7 linked regions of the Homo sapiens genome follow. The protein of the gene in region 1 interacts with the protein of each later gene in a pairwise test. Each region holds a gene or a part of one and is shown in the gene's direction. Other genes may lie near its edges.

What was found.
Region 2: the proteins of L3MBTL3 (region 1) and VBP1 interact in binary tests that used the Homo sapiens proteins (3 or more experiments, as listed by UniProt).
Region 3: the proteins of L3MBTL3 (region 1) and LZTR1 interact in a two-hybrid assay, tested with the Homo sapiens proteins (one large-scale study listed by BioGRID and IntAct).
Region 4: the proteins of L3MBTL3 (region 1) and PLEKHF1 interact in binary tests that used the Homo sapiens proteins (3 or more experiments, as listed by UniProt).
Region 5: the proteins of L3MBTL3 (region 1) and E2F3 interact in binary tests that used the Homo sapiens proteins (3 or more experiments, as listed by UniProt).
Region 6: the proteins of L3MBTL3 (region 1) and PRKAA1 interact in binary tests that used the Homo sapiens proteins (3 or more experiments, as listed by UniProt).
Region 7: the proteins of L3MBTL3 (region 1) and ZCWPW1 interact in binary tests that used the Homo sapiens proteins (3 or more experiments, as listed by UniProt).

Annotation. Positions count from the first base shown.
Region 1 is NC_000006.12:130,063,581-130,067,080, forward strand, and holds part of L3MBTL3 (lethal(3)malignant brain tumor-like protein 3), read left to right. Parts: intron 1-2,772; coding exon 2,773-2,908; intron 2,909-3,500. UniProt on the Homo sapiens protein: Is a negative regulator of Notch target genes expression, required for RBPJ-mediated transcriptional repression. It recruits KDM1A to Notch-responsive elements and promotes KDM1A-mediated H3K4me demethylation.
Region 2 is NC_000023.11:155,229,960-155,233,459, forward strand, and holds part of VBP1 (prefoldin subunit 3), read left to right. Parts: intron 1-3,500. UniProt on the Homo sapiens protein: Binds specifically to cytosolic chaperonin (c-CPN) and transfers target proteins to it. Binds to nascent polypeptide chain and promotes folding in an environment in which there are many competing pathways for nonnative proteins.
Region 3 is NC_000022.11:20,995,797-20,999,296, forward strand, and holds the end of LZTR1 (leucine-zipper-like transcriptional regulator 1), read left to right. Parts: coding exon 1-76; intron 77-166; coding exon 167-316; intron 317-899; coding exon 900-1,005; intron 1,006-1,089; coding exon 1,090-1,170; intron 1,171-1,435; coding exon 1,436-1,552; 3' UTR 1,553-3,236; downstream 3,237-3,500. UniProt on the Homo sapiens protein: Substrate-specific adapter of a BCR (BTB-CUL3-RBX1) E3 ubiquitin-protein ligase complex that mediates ubiquitination of Ras (K-Ras/KRAS, N-Ras/NRAS and H-Ras/HRAS).
Region 4 is NC_000019.10:29,664,313-29,668,260, forward strand, and holds the start of PLEKHF1 (pleckstrin homology domain-containing family F member 1), read left to right. Parts: upstream 1-1,148; 5' UTR 1,149-1,193; exon of another isoform or gene 1,194-1,244; coding exon of another isoform or gene 1,245-1,483; intron 1,484-1,506; exon of another isoform or gene 1,507-2,868; intron 2,869-3,948. UniProt on the Homo sapiens protein: May induce apoptosis through the lysosomal-mitochondrial pathway. Translocates to the lysosome initiating the permeabilization of lysosomal membrane (LMP) and resulting in the release of CTSD and CTSL to the cytoplasm.
Region 5 is NC_000006.12:20,404,879-20,408,378, forward strand, and holds part of E2F3 (transcription factor E2F3), read left to right. Parts: intron 1-3,500.
Region 6 is NC_000005.10:40,774,375-40,777,874, reverse strand, and holds part of PRKAA1 (5'-AMP-activated protein kinase catalytic subunit alpha-1), read left to right. Parts: intron 1-288; coding exon 289-430; intron 431-2,371; coding exon 2,372-2,465; intron 2,466-2,902; coding exon of another isoform or gene 2,903-2,947; intron 2,948-3,500. UniProt on the Homo sapiens protein: Catalytic subunit of AMP-activated protein kinase (AMPK), an energy sensor protein kinase that plays a key role in regulating cellular energy metabolism.
Region 7 is NC_000007.14:100,422,204-100,425,703, reverse strand, and holds part of ZCWPW1 (zinc finger CW-type PWWP domain protein 1), read left to right. Parts: intron 1-567; 5' UTR 568-674; intron 675-3,500. UniProt on the Homo sapiens protein: Dual histone methylation reader specific for PRDM9-catalyzed histone marks (H3K4me3 and H3K36me3). Facilitates the repair of PRDM9-induced meiotic double-strand breaks (DSBs). Essential for male fertility and spermatogenesis.

The DNA of each region.
Region 1 (3,500 bases):
TAACCTTGTTTTATGTGTGTTTCTGTTTAAAGACACCTCATTTAATGTATATCGTTCATTCATTAAAAATTGAACTCACAAGTAAGAGCACTATCACTCCTGCCTGATGAAGCTTATCTAGCACAAGTATCTTCTCTGTAAGGCAACATCACAACCTTTTGGCACTTAGGGACACTAAACAACACCTCAGCACTATGTCAGGGGCCATTTTAAACAGTAACATCACCCAAGAAAAGCACAAAAATGTAGAATATGTGGCACTAAATGGACCACACAAAAGACACTTATTCCCAGTACGAGAACTGAAACAGGAAGGTAAAGCTCCTTCTTGATTGACTTCAGCTGGGAACATGCATGTTGAGTGACTCAAAAGTGTTGTCAGTCTGTGCATGTCCACGAACACTGCGAGTATTATTTTGGGGTTACAAATAAATTGTAGCAAGTAGATGACTTCACAAACGTGGAATACAGTATGTGAATAATGAAGACTGGCGGTATGTCATTTTTTCCTTCCCATCACCATTTACTAGACTTGGTTAGGTGGAGACAAGATGGATACCTGAAATGATAGAATGTCACCAGGCAAATATTTTGCAAAGGATATCAGGGCAGAAATTTTAAAATGTTGGCAAGAAAATGTTTTTTAAATGATTGCTAGGAAAGGAAGGCTTGGGGTGAGGAGAGCTGCTAGGGAGGAAGTAAAAGGATCAGTGTGAGACTAGAGTTTCTGTTGAGATTGAGGAAGAGGCATCTGGGGGTAACTGGGTTTGCAGACTGGAATAGGAGTATGTGTCCCAGGGTTGGATTTTTAAATTTAATACTAAGAAGCAGAGCAGTTCTTGTTGGGGACTAGATTCATGGGAGTGAGGGCTTGAAGTAGAGAGGAAGGGAGTCAAAATGCCAGGGTATTGGATAAGTCATCCATATGGATGACGAAAGTACTCAGATGGAAAGGAAGAGAATAAGCCAGGGCTAAGTGTTTGGGTGGTTAGCATGGGGGAAGAAGAGGAGGAGAGTTGCTTCAGCCATATGGCTCGAGCCTCGGCAGGGGAGAACTGGCCTAGGATCCATGGTGTGGTGGGAGGCAGCAACCCGTCCTGTGTCTATGGGAGGTAGAGTTGGGAACATGAGCACCCTTGGGGAAAGGCTTGAGAAGGACGAGCTAGGTATGACTGTGGGCAAGGAGGGTGAGGATGTAGGAGATTGTTTCTCAAAGCATAGCTTTCCGGTGAGCCTGAGATAGAGACTATGGGGAGAACAGAGAGAGCTTGGCTCAAGGGAGCAGAAGCTCAGAACGGTGTGCCCACAAGGAACTAGAGGCTGTAAATTACTATAGGGCTGAGCTCTTAGGATCGGCCAGATATAGCTGACTGTGAGAGAGAGGAGAGAAGCAGCCTTCTTTGCATGGGGTGGCTGTAGGGAGTGGGGGTAGCTCCTGCTTTACCTGAGAGATTGTATTTCCCAGGGATTCCAGTCTCAGCTGTATGGAGAGACTCTGTTCTCTCTGGGGGGAGTCAGCTTAGTTGTAAATTTGATGTATGTGGTATATCAATACATTCTAATTGAAAAAATGCTGATACATAAAAGAAAATATGAAAAGTCCATCATTCCCATTTTGCCCCTTCCTTTTCACTACCACTTCCTAGAAGAAATCATTATTAACATTTTGGCAAATATACCTCCGGACTTCTTTTTACTATGTGTTTACATATGTATGCATATGTGTGTATATTAATGTATGTATATAAATGCATATACTTATGTATATACACATAATACACATATGTATACATAATCATATACCCATAAATACATGTGGACCCCCACATGTCTAATTTTCTCATAAACTTAACTCATTCTGTGTTATGTGTTCTACCACTTGAATTTTAACTATATGTTTTAGAGAACTTTCCATGACAGTAACTGTACAGCTACCTCACTATTTGAGGATTAATTGCCCTGGCTCTGCACTCTGGTCTAAGTTCATCATTCAGGGTTCTGCAGGACAGACACTCCTGGAGCGGGTAGAGGTCTGGCGTGATACGTGTTTCTACTTGAACACATCTTCTTGTGTTAGTGGGAAGAAGTCTCAGGGGCTGAACCCTCTCTCTAAGAATCCAGGGCAGGGTATGATCCAACTCAGGTCTCGTAAGCCTATATGACCTTCTAAATCAGAATGTCTCTAAGTGGGGCCCTGTAGGCATATGTATGGCATGTGTTATACAGAGTACATTCTTACTAGCATTCTTAGGAGCCTGTCTCATCCAAGTAATAAACTAGGAGAGACGCTTTTCTTTCTTTCTTCCAACCCAGCTTTGGTGGAGAAAAAAAGCTTGACTTCTGTGCATATGCACCAGCTGTGGTCTGCAGCCTTCAGTGCAGGGCAGACTGTCCACTCTGGGGCCATGCTAGAGCTGAGTGTGCTGTGCTGGTGTGCCTTCCAGCTTACCCTGGGGACACATCTTGGTACAACATAGGGAGTGGAGAAAGGACCTGCAATTGTGGGATATTATGCTTTGCCCCCTATCCGTGTGGTTGTAATGTAACTGAGAATGTTGCCAGAATGCCACAGCTCAGCTCTTCCCACTTTAATAGCTTTTGTCTTTAGATTCTGGTTATTTGTTTAGTTGTTTTATTACTGTTAATGTGGGTGGTTTGATTAACATTAAGACTATATCATGCCTGGTGTCCATGTTTATTTTTGTGTATATATATATATATATGAATATTCTGAGTTAAAAAAAATAATTCAACCTATTTTACCTGTTTCAGGTTTGTGGATACCGGATAAAGCTTCACTTTGATGGGTATTCTGATTGCTATGACTTCTGGGTGAATGCAGACGCTCTGGATATCCACCCAGTTGGGTGGTGTGAGAAAACCGGCCACAAACTCCATCCTCCAAAAGGTTTTGTCACTTTTTGTTTGATATTTTAAATTCAGTAAAAACTCATTTTCTTACATGCTACATTAGAATTGTTAAGAATTCAGACTTTATGAAAATTCAGATAGGCACAAATTTAACCTTATTGTTTATGATGAAACCATGTTTATTAAAGTTAAAGAAATAAAAGCAGAATCCAGCCTAGGAAAATAAAGTATGTTCATATGCTTATTTTCATGTAAAATAACATTTGCATGATACTCAACTTTGACTACAAATAATGTTTACCTGCAAATTTCTATTATTAAATACATACATCTTTGAAAAAACTGATTTGAAAAATTAGTTTAAATTAGTTTATATAACTAAGTTTAGTGTTAACTGGTTTAAACTAATTTTTCAAATCAGTTTTTCATTATATAGAAAATCCTGAGAAATTATGCTTGACCGTATAGATCTTAATATTTAGGAGATTGGCAAGAAGACTGTAACACTAAAAATTGGCTTAGGTGGGGGGTTGAACTCATAGCAATTACTTTTCTTATATTTGAGTACTTTATATTATAGTCCCCCAGTGATTTTCCTATTTCATGTTTATATCAAAGTTCAAGAATAA
Region 2 (3,500 bases), on another chromosome or scaffold:
TGGTCCAGGCCACCTTTGTCTCTTGCCAGGACTGTGGGAATACTGTCTATTAGTTTTTAGGGATGCCATAATAAAATTACCACAAACTGGGTGGCTTTAACAACTGAAATGGACTGTCTCATGGTTCTGGAGGCCAGAAGTCCGTGATGAGCCCCAGAATCAGGGTCGATTCCTTCTGAGAGCTGTGAGGGAAAATCTGTTCTAGCCTCCTCTCTTAGCTTTGGTGTTCGCGGACAGTCTTTGGCATGTTGATGTGTAGAAGCATCACTGTGATCTCCGCCTTCATCTTCACATGTGTGCATGCATGTGTCCAAATTTCTCCTTTTGAAAGACCTTATCTCCAAATAAAGTCACATTCTGAGCTACTGGGGGTTAGTAGTCCAACTTATTTTTTGTTGGGGAGACAGAATTCAATCCATAATACCTTACTTCCACGTAAGGTCACATTCGCTAGTATAAGGGGTTAAAACTTAAATGTATCTTTTTTGGGGACACTGTTTAACCCATAATAATACCCTAATTCACTGTCTTGCTTCTGCCCTTGCTGGAATTCCTAAAGTCTTTCCAGCACAGTGGTCAGATTAATCCTTTGAAATCTCAATCAGGTCATTCCATTATTCTGCCCAAAATCTTTGAATGGTTTCTTATCACATTCCGAGGAAAAGTCCAAGTTCTTTGAGTGGCTGACAAGTTCCTATACATCCTGGTACTCTCTGTTACTTCTCTCTTTTTTTTTTTTTCTGAGACAGAGTCTCACTCTGTTGCCCAGGCTGGAGTACAGTGTTGTGATCTCAGCTCACTGCAACCTCTGTCTCCCGGGCTCAAGCGATTCTTGTGCCTCAGCTTCCTGAATAGCTGGGATCACAGGCACGTGCTACCATGCCCAGCTAAATTTTTTGGTAGAGACGGGGTTTTGCCATTTTGGCCAGGTTGATCTCGAACTCCTGGCCTCGGGTGATCTGCCCACCTTGGCCTCCCAAAGTGCTGGGATTACAGGTATGAGCCACCGTGTCCAGTCTCTCTGTTCTTCTCTTACTTCCTCGCTTGGCCACACTTGGACTTCTTGCCAGACTTAGAGCATGCTGGGAATGGCCCTGCCTCAGAACCTTTATTCTAGCTCTTTCTTCTGCTTAAGCTGCCAGAGTAGTGCTTTTAAAACATGTCAGATGATTCCGCTTTTCTGCTCAAGACCCCAGTGGTTTCCCTGTCACCAAGGGTGGAATACAGAGGTGTCCTTTCCACAGGACAGCCCTACTCCCTCTCAGCACTCATTTATGCTCATTCTTTTGCTCACTCTGCTGTAGCCATGGTGGCCCCCTAACTGTTCCTGGAACCTGCCAGTGTGGCCCCACATTTCTACTTCTGTGTTCTTCACACTCAATCCTTTGAGTTCTCAGTTCTGATTGTTAGCTCCCCCAGGGACCTGCTATGACTTGTCTGTCAGCATTTCTTGGTTTCACTTGTACTGTTTATCTTGTATTGTTTTCCTTCAAAGTACTTAGCACTCCCTGATATGTTATTGATTGGTGTATTTACCAGTTCCCTGACACATAATAAGTGCTCAGTAAAAATTTTTCTTGGGTGAATGACATTTTTGTTAGTTTTTCATCAGAGTTCATACATGCTAATGGTTCAAAGAGCAAATAGAAAGCAGCAGGCTACTGCTCCATCCCCAGATGCACCCACTTTTAATCATGTCTGTACATCTGTATGTACCTAAATATTTGGAATTTTGTTAATTGTTTTTACAAAAATGGGATATATATTGTATATTGTTCAGCACAGATGTCTTTATTTGTGAGTAGACACAGAGTTTGCCTCCTTGGTTTTATTGGCTTACTATTCTGTGGTAGGGCTATGTGATAATATTCCCAAGTCAAGGGGTGTTTGGATTGTTTTAAAATTTCTTGTACAGTGAGCGGTGCTGTAGTAAATATTTTTGCACATATAGACTTGTATACAAAGGCATATTTTTGTATGCTGCTTTGAAATGGAATTGTTGTGTCTAAGAGTATGCACATTTAACATGTTGATGGATACTATCAAATTGCTCTCCAGAAAAGACTACCAATTTTCATTTTCTCCAACCGTATATAAAAATACCCTTTTATTAACAGTCTCACCCACATTTTTAGATTTTTGCTAGTTTTATAGGTGAAAATAGTATCATCTTATAGGTTTTTGTATGACAAAATGCTCATTTGTATTTCCTCTTCTGTTTCCCTTCCTGACTATGTTGTTGCTCCATTTTTCTGTTGGATTCTTTTTCTTTTTTTTTTTGATAGACATTTAGGTCTTCTTTATATATTATGTATTTCGGATGCACAGTCTTCTCTTAATATTGCAGATACTTTTTCTCATCTGTCACTTGTCTTTTGTGGTAGCTCTTAGAAGTTTTAAATTTTAATGTAATCGACTTTATCAGATATTTATAATTTTATCTTAACAGTGTACTCCTTTCACCAAATCTGCAAACATTTTTTTCCTAATATTTATATACTTAAATTTTTTAGAAAACTTTTTTGTTAAGGATAACATGGAAAGATAAGCAACTCCTCAGGATAATGGGTGAGTGACTTCCAAAAAGAGGGCCTCCCAATGGCCAGTAAACATATGAAAAGTTGTCCCACTTCATTAGTAAACAGGGAAATGCAAATTAAAAGCACAATGTGATCTCACTGTGTACCCACCGGAATGGTAGGGTGATACTAAGTGATGGTAGGACATGGAATAGTGAGAACACTGATTTACTGTTGGTGAAGGTGTAAATGGACACAGCCACTGGGGAAACTGGCAGTATCTGTTAAAGCAGAACATATGCATTGCCTATGCCATAGCAGTTCCATGCCTGTCTCTATCTCTTTCTGCCTCTTGCTGTATATAAGAAATGTATAAATATTAACTAAAAGAAAGGTATAAGAATGTTCATATCAACTCTGTAGTAACCAAAACCTGGAAACAACCCAAATGTTCATCATAGTCGAATGGATGAGTAAATCATGATGTGTTCAGACTGTGGAATACTATACAGTACAGAGGAGGAATGAACTGCTGCTACACGCCAGCACTGCAAGGGTGATTTTCACAAACAAGGTTGAGTGAAAGAAACTGCATAGCAAATTACCACAAACTCAGAGGCTTAAAACAATATCCATTATCTCCTAGCTGTATAGGTCAGAAATCCAGATGGGCTTGGCTGGGTCCTCTGTGCAGGGTCCCACAAAGCCAGAATTAAATTGTCAACAGGGCTGTATTCCTTACTAGCATCTCTGGGGGAGAATTAGATTTCAGCCTTATTCACGTTATTGGCAAAATCCGGTTCTCTGTGGTTGAGGTCCCTGTTTCCTTGCTGCCTGTCGTCCAGGAGTCAGTCTCAGCTTCTAGAGGCCACCTGCAATCCTTGGCTCATGGTCCTTTCTGTTTTCAAAGCAGTGATATGACTAGTCTTTCTTACACTTTAGATCTTTCAAACTTCTCATTCTGCTGCCAGCCAGAAAAAG
Region 3 (3,500 bases), on another chromosome or scaffold:
AATTCTGTGACATCACTCTGTTGCTTGACGGGCACCCACGGCCAGCCCACAAGGCTATCCTGGCCGCCCGCTCCAGGTGGGTGGGGGCTGGACAGGAGGGGAGGGTGGGCCTGGATGGTGTCTTCGTTCTGCTGACGGCCAGGTGCCTACCGCTCGTTGTCTGCAGCTACTTTGAAGCCATGTTCCGGTCCTTCATGCCCGAAGATGGGCAGGTGAACATCTCCATCGGGGAGATGGTGCCCAGCAGGCAGGCCTTCGAGTCCATGCTGCGCTACATCTACTACGGCGAGGTCAACATGCCGCCCGAGGACTCGCTGCATCCTCACTCCCCAGTGAACTCCCAGGTCCCCACCAAGGGGTCCTGGCACCCACCTCAGGTGGCTTTGAGGCCCGCTCTCCTGCCCCAGCTAGGTGATCTGGGCCCAGCGCCTCCCTCCAGAGGGTTTGCTGGTGCCTGGGGCTGGGCCTGGTGCTCTCTGAAGCAGTTGGCAGCTGGCAAGGAGGGGTTTGCAGCCAGGAGGAACCAGTGGGTTCCTGACCCTCACAACTGCCCAGAGGACGGGGTGGGTCATTGCTTTGTGTGACAGTTGAGCACAGACATGGAGGTACTCCTTATGTCACTTCAGTAGGGGTCTGAACATGGAGGGTCAGGATGCCTGTTAGGCCTGCAAGGCCATGGAACAGCGCTACAGATGTACAGACACTATTTTTCTCGGGAGGGGATTCATGGTTTTCTTTGGATCCTGAATGGGGCCTTTGACCCACTAAGTAGTTCAGAATCCATTTGGAGAGCATGCTGGCGTGGGGGCTTGGGGCTCCAGCTGCGCCCTTCCCTGTCCTTCCCTGGGAGGGTGCGGGCGGACCAGCTTCCTTTAGTCAGCTCCTTAACCAGGCCCCAGCTACTTGTTTGCGGCCCCCTACTACTACGGCTTCTACAACAACCGGCTGCAGGCGTACTGCAAGCAGAACCTGGAGATGAACGTGACGGTGCAGAACGTGCTGCAGGTAGCCCCCCAGCCCCGTGCACATGGCTGCAGCTCCCACTGAGTGGGTGAAAGGGGCAGCGCCTCAAGGTCCCTGCCATTGCAGATCCTGGAGGCAGCTGACAAAACGCAGGCACTGGACATGAAGCGGCACTGCCTGCACATCATTGTGCACCAGTTCACCAAGGTCAGGGCTCTGGCCTCCCCTTCAGGACTCGCTTCCCCTTGGCAGTGGCCATGCCCAGGCAGGGAGGGTGCCCAGGCTCTGTGGTCCCCTGCAGTGGTGGGCCCTGGGGGTGAGAGAAGCAGAGCAGCCCATCACTGGCCGCACCTTGCTTCATCCTTGGGACCAGCCTGAGCCCTGAGCAGGGTAGGCCCCACAGGGCTCCACTGCCCACCATGGCCCTTAGGTGGATCTGGTCCCATCTCCTTCCGGCCTGCTTGCCTTACAGGTCTCCAAGTTGCCCACCCTGCGGTCGCTGAGCCAGCAGCTGCTGCTGGACATCATAGACTCCCTGGCCTCCCACATCTCAGACAAGCAGTGCGCAGAGCTGGGCGCCGACATCTGAGGCCCTGTGGCGCCTGCCCATTGTGAAGAATCGCCGTGCCTGCCTGCCCTGCCTACTGAGAAGACTACCGGCTATGCGCATGCCTATGGCAGTGGGTGCACCTGCCAGGCCAAGGGTCAGGGTGCCCAGAGCCTCCAAAGAGAGCTGAGGGGATGTGGGGCCCCAAACTCATTAATTCACTGAAGACACAGGTCCCACAGGGAGCGGATGATGAAGCAGACCCCCTCCTGTCATCACCCTCTCCTGGTGTAGTGTGGATGCGAGGCCACGGCTCAGTGATGGGCTCACCACCCAGAAGTGGGGAGAGACTTTGGGCCTCCCACCCAGTGGGGCTTGGCCTGGCTTCTGTGGCCTGGGCGTGTTGTGGACTCAGGCACTGGGGCCTGTCACCAAGGCTCCTCCAACATGCGGGAGGAGGCTTAGCAGACTTGCGCTGCACCAGCGAATCTGCCTGGGCTGCTCCTGTCCCACCCACCCTCACTGAGATCCATGTAAGGGGCTCCTCTTCCCACCTGGAACTTGTGAGTGGGGACCCATGATGTATGGGTCTCACCTGACTTGAGGTGAATTTTGGAGTGAAGGGCCCTGAGGTCAGCTCCCAGGTCGGTCGTGCTGGGCCAGGCCTGGTTTTCACAGGGGCTGAAGGATCCCAGTCCACCTGTGTGCATGTCAGGGCTCGGCCGGGAAGAAGCCAGCAAAGTCCCCCGTGTCCCTTGCTGAGTATTCTGTCACAGACAAGCCTCCATTAAAGCCACAGCAGTGCTACCCACCACACACACCTTGCTGGCCCGGCCACCACTGCTGGCTTCAGCCCCTTGAGCAGCCCATGGCTTAGCAGACCCCCAGATGTAGGTCAGTGGCCTTACCTGTCTCTATCCATGCTGTCAACTCCTGCCTCCACCTGGGGTCACCCAGTCACATTGGGAAGGGCTGTGAAGGCCTCCAGGCTGGCCCCTTCCAGGGGAATCCTGGAGGCCTGGGGTGGGCTCCTGCCCCTTCTGCCCTGCCTTGCCCCTGCACTATGCTCTTGGCTCCTGTGGAAGGAGGGCTGCCCTCTTGCCCTAGTGAGGGCCCCATGTGGATCCACTCTAGTGCTGGGAGCCAGCGCTCCCTTACTGGGAACAGGATTCCAGGACCCCTTTCTTGTTGTGGCTGCCATGAAGCCACAGCTCCTTGGGGAAGTGACCTGCTCTCCTTTGGGTGTATGCAGGTGTGTGGGGGGCCCTGAGTGGCAAGTTGCTTAGCTAACAGGAGATCCATAGGCAGCCTGCAGGCTAGGAAGTGGCCTAGTGCAAGATGAGCTGGGAACAAGGGAGGAGAGAGCAGGAGCTGGGGCAGAGGCTGAGCCGGGAGGCCCTTGAGGTGAGGACACAGCAGGCCCAGGACCATGGCTGGGGAGGATATGTCAGCACCTGGAAGTGGAGTGCAGGCTGCAGCGCCCAGCCATGTGGGCCAGGTGCATTCACTCAGAGTGGGGCCACACACCCATCTACCCAGTTTCCACAAGATGTGGCTCCTGCCACACCCACAGGGCAGCCTCCTCCAAATCCCTCCTGGAGGGGCCTACCCAGAAGCCTCCTTGAACCAGTCTGCAACCCTGCTCTATGCTGACCCTTGTCACTGAACCCTGATCTAGACTTATATGAATAAATGAAATTACATGCCAAGGGCCCTAAAAAGCAAATTTTACGAAATTGTGTGGCAGTTTCTGGGACTAGAATGAATTTCATTTGTGCTCCTCGGCAGGGAGAGGCCATACTTGCAGTGAGTCACCCCAAGACGGAGCTGTTTGAGAACTGCAGCTGCAGCAAGGCCTTCCAGGTTCCTGGGAGTTGAAGGAAAAGGATGCTGAGGCCAGGACCTGAGTGCTTGTCTCCATGTTCTGGCCACCTCTTCCTAGATTTCCAGGGACTAGCTTGTTGGGGCTTTACTACCTGCTGACATGACC
Region 4 (3,948 bases), on another chromosome or scaffold:
CTGGTAGGCAGCCCTGAATCCCACGAGCGGCCTCAGGAGAGGACTCTGGGTTGGGAGATGCTTTGCAAAATTACAAACACGGGTGACTGTGGAGGGAGATGGGGTGGAGACAGGGAACCGCTTTGGGTGGCCAGGGCAGCCTCCCTGAGGAGGTGACAGTTTGAGGTCTGATGGAGGTAGAAGCAAAGGCCTGAGGCTTTAAGGAACAGGAAGAAGCCCATTTGAGAGGACCTGTGGGGAGGAGGCCAGGGAGGGCCAGGAAGGCCTCCGGGCACTGAGGCCTGGGAATTTCCTTCTGAGCCGCACAGGAGGCTCAGGTGCGGTTGAGTCAGGGGTGACATAACTTGCTGCTAGTGTTGGACCTGGGTGACGGGCACCAGGGTCCCCTGGACTATTCTCTTTCCTTCAGTTTGAAATTTTCCACTATAAAAAGCTTAAAATAGGCCAGGTGCGGTGGCTCACTACTGAAATCCCAGCACTTTAGGAGGTCAAGGCGAGAGGATGGCTTGAGCTAAGGGGTTCGAGACCAGCCTGGGCAACATAGTGAGACCTCCGTCTGTACAAAAATACAAAAACTAGCCGGTCCTGGTGGGCTAATTCTCCTGGGGTCAGGATGATTTCTGTGCAGGCTGCAGTGAGCCGTGACCGCGCCATTGCACTCCAGCCTGGGCGACAGAGGGAGACACCGTCTCAAAAAAAAAAAAAGGTTATAAAGTGCTGCTGCATTTTCATATTACGATTATTGACCGCTGAGGGTGACTGTGCTGTGAGGCCCGCCGGAGGCACCAGAAGGCACAAGCCTCCCACTGCCCCTTTCCCCGCCAAGTCCCGCAGGTCTCGCAGTCGCGGGCGCCCCCACCCCACCCCTGCCCAAGGCCAGGGTCGCAGTCCCACCGGGTGACGGCAGTCGCGCTCCGCGTGGGGCAGCGGCGAGCGGAAAGGGAAGCCGGGCGGGGCCAGGGGGTCAAACACGGGCGACAGTCCCGCCCAGCCCCGGACCTGCAGCGCGCACAAGCTCGGGCGCCCTCCGAGCGCCGCGCCCAAGCCCCGCCCCTCCCGCTTCCCGGGCTCCGATTGGCCGAGCCACCGCGGGGGCGTGTCCGGCGGAGCTGGCCGGGACCCGGGCGGAGCGGGCGGGGACCCGGGCTACTGCGGTGTGGACTCGAGGGCTGGGCGCGGGGCCGGCGCAGAAGGTGAGTCCCCCCACCGTCCCCCGGCCGGGCTGCGGGTCGCGGGGCAGGCGCATGAGGCGAGTCTCCCATCACCACCCCCGGACAAGCGAGCTCTCTCCCGCCGCGCGGTCTTGGCGGCTCCTGGGCCGGCGGGGCGCAGTGCCGCTGACTCCAGCCCAAGAAGAGGCCTGGGAAGGGCGCTCCTGGGCGGCTTGCGGGGTGAACCTGCAGGGAGCCTGGGGAGAGCGGTCAGGGGTCAGAGCGTCCGAGGCGGAATCCCCGGGGAAACGCGCAGATGTAAGCTGGTGGAGGTAAGGGGGTCGCGGGCCACCCGGGACTGCAGGGGTCTCAGCGCACCCGGTCGCTGGTGGTGTTTCCGGGATCCTGGCCTCGTGTGGCCGCCGGGACCTCTCTTCTCAGCCCCAGTCTGCAGTCTGGAGGCCTGGATGGGACCACTGTCCCCCTGGGCAGGGGCGCGGCGGGGGGCGCTGGGGTCCCAGTTCCTCTGGAGCAGTTGAGTTTGTGATTCTTGGTGGGAGCTGCCAAGGGAAACAGGGTCGGGCACTGCTCCCATCTCAGAGAGGAAACTATTGAGCAGGCCCGCAGAGAGAGGCGGCCTGGAATCTCCCTCCTTTCTCGTTTCCCCAACACCTGGCGGGCCGTGTAGGGCAGAGGTGTGGTCAGCCTCTTTGCAGGTGGGAAAGCAGAGAGGTTCCGAGCCACGCTGAAACTTGATCTCTGCAGCCCAAGGGGAGCACTCCTTTGGAATTTGAACACCTCTGGTATCTCCTGGCCAGAGAGGGTCAGAGGCCAAGGAGGTGGGGAGGTAGTCCCCTAATGCGCTGGGATCGTCCCTCTGCACAGCGTCGTTCCCACTGGAGTCTGTTGTGAGCTGAGATGACTCTCTGACTTCGGCCTGCGTCCCTGCACACGTCAGCCCTCCGGGCTGCCAAAACACAGGCCAGGCAGCCCTGGGTGAACTAGGGGACCTGCCCAACCCAGCCCACCCCGAGGAAGGAAGGGGGATTGGCCAGTGTGGCCTGGAGGGTGGGACAGCCCAGCCAAGCTGACGGACCTGCTCGGGATGGGGTGGGCATCAGGCATTTGGAGCGCAGGCAACACCCGCTGGACTCTGACTTCTGGAGTTCTGATTTGGTCTCTGGTTGAGTGCAGCTTTCCACAGCTCATGGTTATTTTGGAGCCGAGCTTCCTGATCACTCAGCAGGGACCTTGGGCAGTGACTTTGATGTGGTGGAAGTACCTTCCCCAAGGGGGCTTTTGTGAGGATTAAGTGAAATAATGAACGTAATATGCTTAACTTTGTGCCTGGTGAGCTCTAAGTGCTCAGTCGGCGGCACTTCCAGTTTTGTTTTGCTTTGTTTTTCATTACCGGTCTCTTCCCGGAGGAGGGCCTTCCAGGAATCACAGGGCTGGACAGAGCCCAGGGGCGGCCCCTCTGGAGGGAGAGGAGGCTTGGCGCCTGATGCTGCAGTCTCAATGCACATGGAGAAAACCTCACATCCTCACGCTGGCCTGGGAGCCTGCAGGATGTCTCCTGCCGGCACTGCAACCTCATCTGTCCTCCTTGCCCCATCGCTCCTTCCTCCGCAGCCTGACTTCACCCATTCCACCTTGAGCTGCTCCCCAGGACCGGAGCTCTGCCCCTAGATCTTTGCACAGCTGACTTCAGGCTGGAGTGAGTTCACTTCCTCCCAAGGCCTTCCTTCCTCGACCTCCACCGTCCTCCCAGGCCCTGCCCTGCTGGGCGCACCAGTCTTTTTCTTCACAGTGTTTAGCACTGGCTCTCAGAAAAGACCCTGTGAATGTACTTCTAGTCTCACTGGCAAGAAGTGTGCATTCCTGAAGGGCCTGGTCTCCAGCTCCCGGCTGTAACCTCGCACAGTGTCTGGCACACAGTGGGACTCATAAATATTTGGAAAATGAAATCAGGCAGGCATGGAAGCAGGGTGGGTCTGCGTGCGGCCCAGGTCCCTGCAGGGAAGGAGGAGCCCCGATCTGGAAGTCAAGGGAAAGTCCAAAGGGCTGAGCTGCCCCCAGAACTCTGATTCCCTTGGTGACCCTGGCCCTGCACGTCCCTGAGCAGGTTCTCCACCTGTAACCCGAGGCAGAGCAGTTACAGCCCCCACCCCATCCCCCACCGCTGCCCAGCTCCTACTTTCCAGGGCTACCATCTTGGGGCCCCACGCATCTCTCATTTATCCAAAATGCTGTGTCCGGAGTAGGAGAGAGGACAGGACGACTCCCGTCAGGACAGTACCTTGTGTGGCCTGTTCAGCGTGCCCTGCAGTGTGTGCATTATACATTTTACAATGTGGCATGGTGTAGATCAGGGGTTGGCTAACCTTTTCTCTCAAGAGCTGGTAGCAAATAGTTTAGGTTTTGCCAGCCATACAGCCTCTGTCCCACATGGCTGTGTTTGAATAAAACTGGATTTAGAAAAGCTGGCAGTGGCCCAGATTTGGTGTAGCTCTCCAGCCCCTGCTGTTGATCACGTATCACACCTGGGCTGCCACATACAGAACCTGGCTTCATGGCTTCTGCAGCCACACGGGGGCTCTCAGGATGTGGCTCCCAAGCCGCAGTGCTCACATGAGCACCTCCAGCCCCTGTGCAGGCAGCAGGATTGCTGAGCCTGAGAGCCCCCACCCCTCTGAACCCTCAAAGAAAGATGCAGGTCTGTTCGTTGCCTGGTCTCCCAGGCTTACTGAGCCTGCGCTGGGGTCACCCCTCTACCAGCAGCCCTGGGGCCACACTG
Region 5 (3,500 bases), about 110 Mb from region 1:
TGGACATATTTTAAGCATATTTGACCCCTGCACAGTTCTGTTACTATTTCATAAACCTAACCTTAAACAACCAGCTATTGACATACTTCTTGGATTAGATTCACAGATTTGCAGGGGGTAGTTTTGATAATGGGAAATTATGAGAGCTTCAAGTTGATTTTTAAAAAATTTTAACAGTGTTTGTTGGGCCAGGTCCCTAAGACTATCTTTCAAGCCAGGTTTATTATATCTAGTTCATTGTATTTAAGTATTTAAAGTATACTAAATTACCCTCACCATCTTCCAAGTTATTTCAAAACTTTATTCTCCTTGACATGAAATTATTATTCCAGGAATAATAATATCCTTTTGAGTTTATGTGCACACAAAAGGTTTTTCATTACAGGAATATAAATGTTACTCATATACATATTCAGAAGCATTTTTTATATGATTGCAATGTATGCTGAATCATTGGTTATCTGCATTTTTTTTTTTTTTTTTTTTGAGACGGAGTCTCATTCTGTCGCCCAGGCTGGAGTGCAATGGCACGATCTCGGCTCACTGCAACCTCCGCCTCCCGAGTTCAAGCATTCTCCTGCCTCAGCCTCCTGAGTAGCTGAGATTACAGGCGTGAGCCACCACGCCTGGCCGGTTATCTACACTTTTAAGAGCTATTTCTACTGGCCGGGCGCTGTGGCTCATGCCTGTAATCCCGGTACTTTGGGAAGCCGAGGGGGGCGGATCACGCGGTCAAGAGATCCAGACCATCCTGGCCAACATGGTGAAACCCCGTCTCTACTAAAAATACAAAAATTAGCTGGGTGTGGTGGTGCGCGCCTGTAATCCCAGCTACTCAGGAGGCTGAGGCAGGAAAATCGCTTGACCCTGGGAAGCGGAGGTTGCAGTGAGCTGAGATCCCGCCACTGCACTCTAGCCTGGCGGCAGAGCGAGATTCCGTCTCAAAAAAGGAGCTGTTTCTTCTGGGAGGGTGTAGGAAATTTATCTAGTCAATGCATACAAAGTCTTAAGCACTGAATATAAAGTTTGATTTATTGTTTTTCTTATCGAAATTATATTAGACTTCCATGTAAGTCTTCGAATTTTGAATTTTGTTGATATTCTTTCCCTAAGCAGGAAAGACAGGATGGGGAAAGCTAAGTGATTGGCTGAACAAAGACCACCTAAACACTCTGTGTCCAAGAAGAGGTTGAAAAGTCTTCAGGTGGCCAGAGTTGCAGACCTATCTGGTTCTGATCCCAAGTTCTGTCTCAAGAATATCTAAGGACTTAACCAGAAGCAACTTCTTCACCTTTTTTTCAATGGGGGTAAAAATATGAGTACTACCTTACCAGCTGTAAAGCATCTATTATTTACAAATTGTATGTTCATTGGCAAATAACTTAATCTCTCAACTCAGTTTCTTCCTCTGTAACATAGGGACAAAAACAGTGTCACCTTTAAGGTTCTTTTGAAGAGTTAAATATGATAATGCATGTGAACTATTTAGCACAGTGCCTGGCAAAAAGTAGACACCCAGTACAATTCATATTTATTATACAAATGTTAATTTTTTTCTGACTTAGTGAAATAGTGTAAGGCCAGGTGCACATTGTCCCTTTGTTTACATATATGAAGAGAACTGTTAAAAGTCTTTAAGTGATCTGTAATTAATTATTTATGCCCAATTAATTTGGGCTTTTAAATATATAAAACATGGCCATCCTAGGGGTAAAATAGGGACATTTCAGTAAGACACGCCTATATAGAGATAGTGGTGTTGAACTGCCAAGCATATGCCTTGAATTGTGACAATTCAAGGCCACATCATCCTCACTTTTTTGCCTGAGTTCCACTCCGTCCATGATTCCACAGACCTGCCAACTTTTGGGTGCAGTTTATGCTTAGCGGCTTTTGTTAGACCTGAACTCTCAATCTTCACCATGTCAGAGACATGCATTAGACAAATTCCATCTTAGTTGGTGAACTGTTGGAAATGTAAGAACTCCAGAGAAACCATAGTCAGAAGTGCTACTCAATGGAGCAGACAAGGCTTCATCATTTTCTGCTGCTGCTTCTAAAAAGAAGCTGAAATTATTTTATTCTAGAAAATTTGGGATTTAATAATGTAAGAGACTATGTCCTGTCACAGTCATAGCAACCTACTGATTCTACTTTGGGAAAGAGCCCTCAGTGCTTGAAATTTTCATCTAAGAATGGAGAACCATAGGTGCTATTTCAGCAGGGTCTCTTTTCCTGTACAATTATAAAAAGAAAAGTGCCGGGTTCCTGTGGTTCTATACTCAATAATCTTGCTTCTGCTGAGATATATGGTTGATGCCAAGTTTAAGCTGGGAGACAATTTTTAGTCACTACATACCCCAAAATGGAAGTTTTAATATAATGCAGTGCCCAGACTTGGGCACTACAGGTAGCTCCACTATAATCAGTACCAAGGGCGCCACTCTAATCATCCTCTGAAACAAAGCACCCTTAAATATGGCACTGTGGGCTGAAGAACTCCACCTTGTGAACAGGAAAGGATTTTTTGTTTTTCTATAAATCGCCACCTTGTGTATTACTTGGAAGAATGGATTCTGAGATTAATGTTATACTGTGTAAAGCTAACTTGAAAACAGAAAATAATACTCTAAGCCTAGACGTGCATAAATAACATTACCTGGAGATTGACAGACGGGGTGAAAGCTTTTATTGTGGTTTCTCAGAAATATATAAAGCAGTAGTTTTCCTTTAACTCTTCTGTCTTTAATGCCATCTGCAAAGATATATCATCCATACCTTTAACCTCTTTCCTAGGGATTTGGACCCATTTGGCAAATAGCTTCAAGTACTCATAGTTAATTTTCTGGCTGGTTTTCCTAAGTTAACCTGATTTTACAAATATTCCATTTGTAGGACCAGTTTACATCTACTTTCCCAAGCTAGCCAACTTCAATTCCCTTTTAGTCATCTACTTCCTACTAACAGCTGTAACTAGGATGAGTCAAAATCAATTGCCTATGCTCACCAGATCCCTGATAAATTCCCATGAAGCCACCTGAAAGGTGGTAAAAGCAAGGTAAAACGTGGTGAAAGCAAGGTAAAGAAGGTAGATTTCACAATTTTGTTTTTTAAAAAGGGGAATCTTCCCTGAATTCTTTGAGGTACTAAGTACGTGGTTTAATGCATATTTTCATTCTTGTTAGCAGTTTAAAAATAATGTTTCAGAGACTGTATTCACGATTGCTAAAAAGCATTTTTTCTACTAATCATTGTTCATGGGACTTAACAATGGAAGATAACTGGGAAAGCAGTAAATATAGGAAACCACTAATAGTGTCTCCTTCTTCCTACCCTGACCCTCTCTTTGGCTTCAGAAAGTGACGAGGAAAATGTATCTTTCACAAAGAAAAGTTATACCACAGAAGGTACTAAAAAGCAACAACTGCCTTTGGGGACAGGAAACTTACAGAGTGGGGATTATTATAGAGGGATAACATACCGAGTTTCTATTTCAATAA
Region 6 (3,500 bases), on another chromosome or scaffold:
TCTCGAACTCCTGATCTCAGGTGATCTGCCCGCCTCGGCCTCCCAAAGTGCTGGGATTACAGGCATGAGCCACCGCTCCCGGCCATTAATTTTTGTATTTTTTAGTAGAGATGGGGTTTTGCCATGTTGGCCAGATTGGTTTCGAACTCCTGACCTCAAGTGATCTACTCGCCTCGGCCTCCCAAAGTGCTGGGATTACAGGCATGAGCCACTGCACCGGGCCAGAATATGTGTAAATATATTATTAATCATACTTAGTACTAATTTATTAAATTACTTCTTTTACAGTTGGCAAACATGAATTGACTGGGCATAAAGTAGCTGTGAAGATACTCAATCGACAGAAGATTCGGAGCCTTGATGTGGTAGGAAAAATCCGCAGAGAAATTCAGAACCTCAAGCTTTTCAGGCATCCTCATATAATTAAACTGTAAGCTCTGTTTATATTAAATATAGTCCAGTCATCTTTTCATCTTTTTTGTTAACCTACTTAATGTGACAAGTGAGAAAAATGACTGACACTTCTTTTTGTTTCCTAAGGGTTTTGAAAAGTTTCTTCCTAGGCTGTGTGCGGTGGCTCACACCTGTAATTCCAGTACTTTGGGAGGCTGAGGCAGGCGGATCACCTGAGGTCAGGAGTTCGAGACCAGCCTGGCCAACATGGTGAAACCCTGTCTCCAGTAAAAATACAAAAATTAGCTGGGCATGGTGGTGGGCGCCTGTAATACCAGCTACTCGGGAGGCTAAGGCAGGAGAATGGCTTGAACCTGGGAGGCGGAGGTTGCAGTGAGCTGAGATCGTGCCATTGCACTCCAGCTTGGGCAACAAAAGCGAAACTCTGTCCCAAAAAAAAATAAAAGTTTCTTCCCATTCATGTATTTTTCTAACCCCATTGATGGTCATTTAAGCCTGTGTTCATGTTTTGCCCTTGTGCTTATCAGCTGTTATCTTCTCATTCTTTCCTGTCTCCTGGAAAGATGCTCTTCTGGTAATGTTTGGTGCCCCATTGCTGTAAAACCAACAGTGATCTGCTAGTAAAAACTCTTGACCTCCAAATGCCCACATGATGTCAGTTAGCCTCACTAGTGAGAATGCGGTAGTAGAAAGGGTTTTTCCCCATCCTGCTTATACCTGAACATATAGATAACAAAATTTCAGGAATCCAAGGTTTCAAAAGGGCAGTAATCTTACTGTTGTTTTACAGTTGCCAGTTATAGAGTCTACAAATAACTATTTCCTGCTCAGCTTCTGCTTTGTTATGCAGGCAATAACTTAAAGATGCTTAGGTTTTTCTCCTGAACTGGCTGACTCAAACTTGTTTCACTCTTACCTCTTCTCATTTGTTGAGTGCTAGGTTTTAAATACCATCCATATGCTGACCACCCCTAAATGTACATCTCTTGCTTTAAGATCTCTTCTTACACCAGACTTATTTGCTCACTGCTGACTTTACATTTCCATTTGGATGTTCGCAAGACATTTAAAACTCAACCCGGCCCAAAATGAACTCTTTATTACTCTCCCAAACCTGCTCTTCCCACAGTTTTCACCATCTTGGCTAACAGCCAATGACCCAGGGCTAAAACTTAGGAACCATTTTTAACTTCCCTGTTTCTTTCACTTTCTACCATGCATTTCATTTCTTCCTTCACAATCAAGCTAGGATTTGATTGCTTCTCAGTTCCTTTATTGCTGTCAACCTGGTCTCAGCCACCATCTGTCTCATGAAATCCTGAAGTAACCTCCTGTGGCTACCTTTACTGTTGACAGTTAATTCTTCACATTGCTGCCATAGTTTTACTTTTAATATGCCAGATCACATGACTGCTTAAAACGTACGATAGCTTTTCATCTTCCTTGGAGTAAAAGCCAAAGCCTTATCATGGCTTGTAAAATTCTGTGTCTTCTGGCCTGCAGTTAACACCTTTGACTCTACATCCTATTTCTCTCTAATATTCCTCGAACATGCCAAGCAGGCTTCTACTTGGGGACCTTTGCAGTTGCTATTCCCTCTCCCAGTTTCGCTTTCCTCCTAGATAATTACATAATTTGTTCCCATTCTTCTTTTAGGCTCAGCTCAAATGTTACTTTATTAGAGGCTTTCCTTTAGCACTCTGTATACAAAGATTCCCCTTCATTTGCTTTATTTTTCTTCATAGCATGTTCCACCACCTGAGATATTGCTTATTTATTTAGTGTCTGTTTCCTGGTTCCTGGAACATGAACTCCATGAGAGCAGAGAATTTTTGTTTCCTGCAGTTTTTCTAGCTCCTAGCCTAGTACCTGGTATACTATAGGTGCTTAGTAAATATTTATTGAATGAATGAATATATGTGTTTTAATATTTGTAGACAATGTTTTCTCTCACCAGGTACCAGGTCATCAGTACACCATCTGATATTTTCATGGTGATGGAATATGTCTCAGGAGGAGAGCTATTTGATTATATCTGTAAGAATGGAAGGGTAAGCTGTTCTGCTTTAATTCTGTATGTATTTTGTAACTCCCCTTTATCCTTTACTAGCATCAAAATGTCAGCAACCAATTTTAAGAGGTCTATTTAATAACCAGTTCCCTTAGTCATATATTTGTTTAGAATCATAAACTATGTAGAACTAGAAAGGATCTTAAAGATTATCTCCTTAGCCTGTTTATACAGATGTGGATACTGAGCCTCGCGGCTTATATGATTGCTCACAGTAACGTGATTTATTAATGACGGAATTGGCTTGAGCCCCCAGAACTCATAATCCTCAGACTTATGCTTCCAGGGTATACAAATACTTTGAATATGTATCTTAATGTAATTAATCGTTACAAAATATATTATTATTACTTAAAGATCTAGGCCTTGCTAGTCAATTCTAGCCACATTTAAATTGCATTCATTTTTTGGTTTCAGAAATCTGATGTACCTGGAGTAGTAAAAACAGGCTCCACGAAGGAGGTAGGAATTAGATATAAAGAATTTACAGCTGGAAGGAACTTTGTAGGACATTTTGAACACTACCTTAAGTTACAGATACAAAAACTCAACACTGCCCTCTGCCCATACTTTTTCTCATACCCAGGTTATGTGGTATGCAAAAGCCCCTTTGTGGGAGAGCTGTAGCTAGCCCTGAAAAGAGAGCTTTTCTCTCAATTTTAAGTTATTTACATTACTCATTCATTTGTTCTATATAGCATGTCTATTTACTTTTATCAAAATCAAACTTATTAACCAAGTTAATTTTGATTTTACTATTTCTTAACATGATTCATTTCTATTTCAGGTACTCCCCTTTACTCCTGCTTCTCCTTACCAAAAAAAAAAAAAAAAAAAAAATTCTGCCTGGAGAAATGGGAAACAGGCACAATTGATATATATTTTTCTTATCTTTTCTGTTGTTGTTTATTTCTTGGTTTTACCTTGTGGGTATTTCTTCAGTTTTACCAGTTGAATATTAAAATTTCAGCACCCGTATTTTCTATTTCAAAAGTTTCTTATTTTCTGAAATTTT
Region 7 (3,500 bases), on another chromosome or scaffold:
GAAAACAACTGGGTTCTCGTCTGTTTCTGCATTCAGTCTGTTGGGATATCTTGTTTTTGTAAAAGTACATGAGAAAATCCAGCTTAATACAGATAGGTAGTTGGAAAAGGGAGAGGGCCCCCTAGGATTTTGGGACTACACTTAGAACTGCTGAGTTAGGTGATTTCATCTCAAAATTTATGTGATGGTTTTTAATGTTCTAAGTGAAATAAAACTCTTTTTTGAGATCCTCATTCACCTTCCCTTGGTTCCCTTTATTATTTCTAAGTTCTTTTTCCCTCCTTATTTACCCTCATTTCATATGTTGAGTGATGAGAATATGGTTTCTGGAACTGTACTGGTTCTTTTACATTCTTATTTAAAGCCTTTGCCCCTCTTATTAAAGCCTTCCCCGCAACCCCACACCCTGCCCCTCTTCATCTAAGGTAAGAAAAGAGAAATTAAAACCTCAAATTTTATTCCTGGGTCTACAGCCCCTAGTCATTTAGTAGCTGTACAGAAGAAAGTTAGTGGTATTTTATATTTTTATTAACTGTCTATATTTTTTTCTCTCTCTCTCTGAACCAGCTTTCAGTATTTGTTATTGTGAAAGAAGTTAATTCACCTGAAACAGAGGAGGGGCAACCTGAGTTATCAGAAAGTGACTTCCTGGCCTTCCCTTCTTTACTGATCAGGTTAGAGCTTTTGTTTGAAAGCAGTGTTATCACATGCACAGATTATACATATTATGTGATACTATACATCACTGTTTATAGATTTATTACATCTTATTAACTCAACAACAGTGAACCACAATTCTATCTAGTTGGTTGGGGCTCCAGAAATATACTTTGGCCTAGGAAGATCTTTACAGGTTTAGATAAGGATTTGAACCTAAATACTGGAAATGTTTGCATTTTTAGGTTGGTCGAAATACTCTCTTTTAATTTTACTTAAAGAATTTCGGCCGGGCACGGTGCGTCATGCCTGTAATCCCAGCACTTTGGGAGGCTGAGGCAGGTGGATCATGAGGTCAGGAGATTGAGACTATCCTGGCCAACATGGTGAAACCCCGTCTCTACTAAAAATACGAAAATTAGCTGGGGGTGGTGGTGCGCTCCTGTAATCCCAGCTACTCGGGAGGCTGAGGCAGGAGAATCGCTTGAACCTGGGAGGCAGAGGTTTCAGTGAGCCAAGATTGCACCACTGCACTCCAGCCTGGTGATAGAGCAAGACTGTGTCTCAAAAAAAATAATAATAATTTAAAATATTTTTTGAAGTGGCAACATTTATAGGTTTTAAAATGCCAAAGATAAACGAGGGAGTCCACCAAAAGCTTCCTTTCACTCTCATCTACCCAGTTCTACTCCCCAGAGGCATTTTGATCCATTTTTTTTCTCTTCCAGAGAAAATTTATGATTAACAAGCCTATTATACCAGACATATGTTTTTAAAAACTAAATGTTGTCATCTGAAACACACTAATTTTCACTCTGCTTTTCTCACTTAGCATAGCCGTTGTAATTTAGACAGAGACTTCTTGTGATCTTTTTTGGAATTTTAAAGTCTAGGAAAAGATATATTTGTCATTTGTGGTCAAATTAATATTCTTTTTACAGGCTAATTTTACCCAGTCTTTTTTTTTTTTTTTTTTGAGACGGAGTTTTGTTCTTGTTGCCCAGGCTGGAGTGCAATGGCGCGATCTTGGCTCACTGCAACCTCCGCCTCCTGGGTGCAAGCGATTCTCCTGCCTCAGCCTCCTGAGTAGCTGGGATTACAGGCGCCCGCCACCACGCCCGGCTAATTTTTTGTATTTTTAGTAGAGAAGGGGTTTCGCCACGTTGAACAGGCTGGTCTCGAACTCCTGACCTCAGGTGATCCACTCGCTTCAGCCTCCCAAAGTGCTGGGATTACAGGTGTGAGCCACCATGCCTGGCCAATTTTATCCATTCATTACCTTCTATTTAGAATTATAATAAAGGAGATTAATTTGCTTGAGTGTTTCTCCCCAAAATTCCAACTTGCCTTTTTTTCTGGAGCAAATATGTTTTGGGATTGGTGATGATGAGTTAAAATGGAAACAGCAAGAAAATGTGCCCCTTAATATAAAGGAAACGTCGTTGCTTTAGAACAGCACATCTGAATTATTCACATTTATAGAAGTGAGAAAAGGAAGAGAAAAATGCTGAAGGGTATTCACATTTAGCCATGCTGTGGCCACGCTGTCAAAACCTCAGTACCCTTTAAGTTTATCTTATGGTCTAGAGAGAGGAACCCTACACCTTGAACGAGTTTGGCCATTTAAGGTCTTAAAATTTTCTGATCCTTTAAAGGGAAGTGTATATGAACCAAATGATCCATTTTACGTCGCTTTTGGATCTCTTTATAGTGGGGGATCACAGATTTAGAACAAAGAGTTTCAGTTGCAGGGTTTTCAAACTGCTCAAAGCCAACAGCCAGAAACAAGATCACTGAGTAGAATAGATATGTTATTAGTAGAATTGAGAGGCAAAAGTCCTGGGTTCATCTAAGCTCAACAATATATTAACACTGAGTCTTTAGGCAAACCACTTAACCTCTGTTAGCATATTTTTTTTATCTGTAGAAAGGGGAGTTGGGGCTTTATTATCCCTAAAGGTCTTCCCAGAGCTATAATGCTTTTTATAATGGTTATAAAAGTAAGAATGGCATATATCCCCTAAGCCTAAAGAAAACTGGGTGAAGGGCTGCAAGAAGTTAAGGTTAATAAAATAAAACTTTTCTTCAGAAAGCTGGGTGGACACAGAATACTATGCAGCCATATAAAAGAACAAGATCATGTCCTTTGCAGCAACATGGATAGAGCTGGAGGCCGTTATCCTAAGTGAATTAACGCAGGAACAGAAAACCAAATACTGTATATTCTCACTTATAAAGTGGGAGCTCAACATTGCATACACATGGACACAAAGAAGGGAACAATAGACACTGGGGCCTACTTGAGGGTGGAGAGTGGGAGGAGGATGAGGACTGAAAAACTACCTATTGGGTACTATACTCACTACCTGTGAAACAAAATTATCTGTACACTAAATCCCATGACATGCAATTTACCCATGTAACAAACCTGCACATGTACCCCTTGAATGTAAAATAAAGGTTGGAAAGAAAAAATAAAAATAAAGCTGTATGGAAATAATATCAGTAGTGGGAAAGTATAAATTGGAAAATAAAAATACTGGAATGTTCGCAGATGAGTCTTGGCACACTGGTGGGTCACGAATAGCTTGTAGCTGTGTAGATACTAATTTCTTCTTCAGCCTTTGGTGTGACTCTTCAGTTGCCTATGGCTGTGAGCAGCCTGGTCCTTTTACCCCCAGAGTACCTGGAAATGTCATTTTCTATGTGTTTCAGTATACGCTATTAATGTATGTTTTCTGTGTGTGCTGTGATAGCAAAATGGTGGTGAAGCACTGAATTAGACTGTTAGGATGTCGTGTAGCAGTTATTAGCACAAACTTTGAAATCAGACAGGTTCTAAT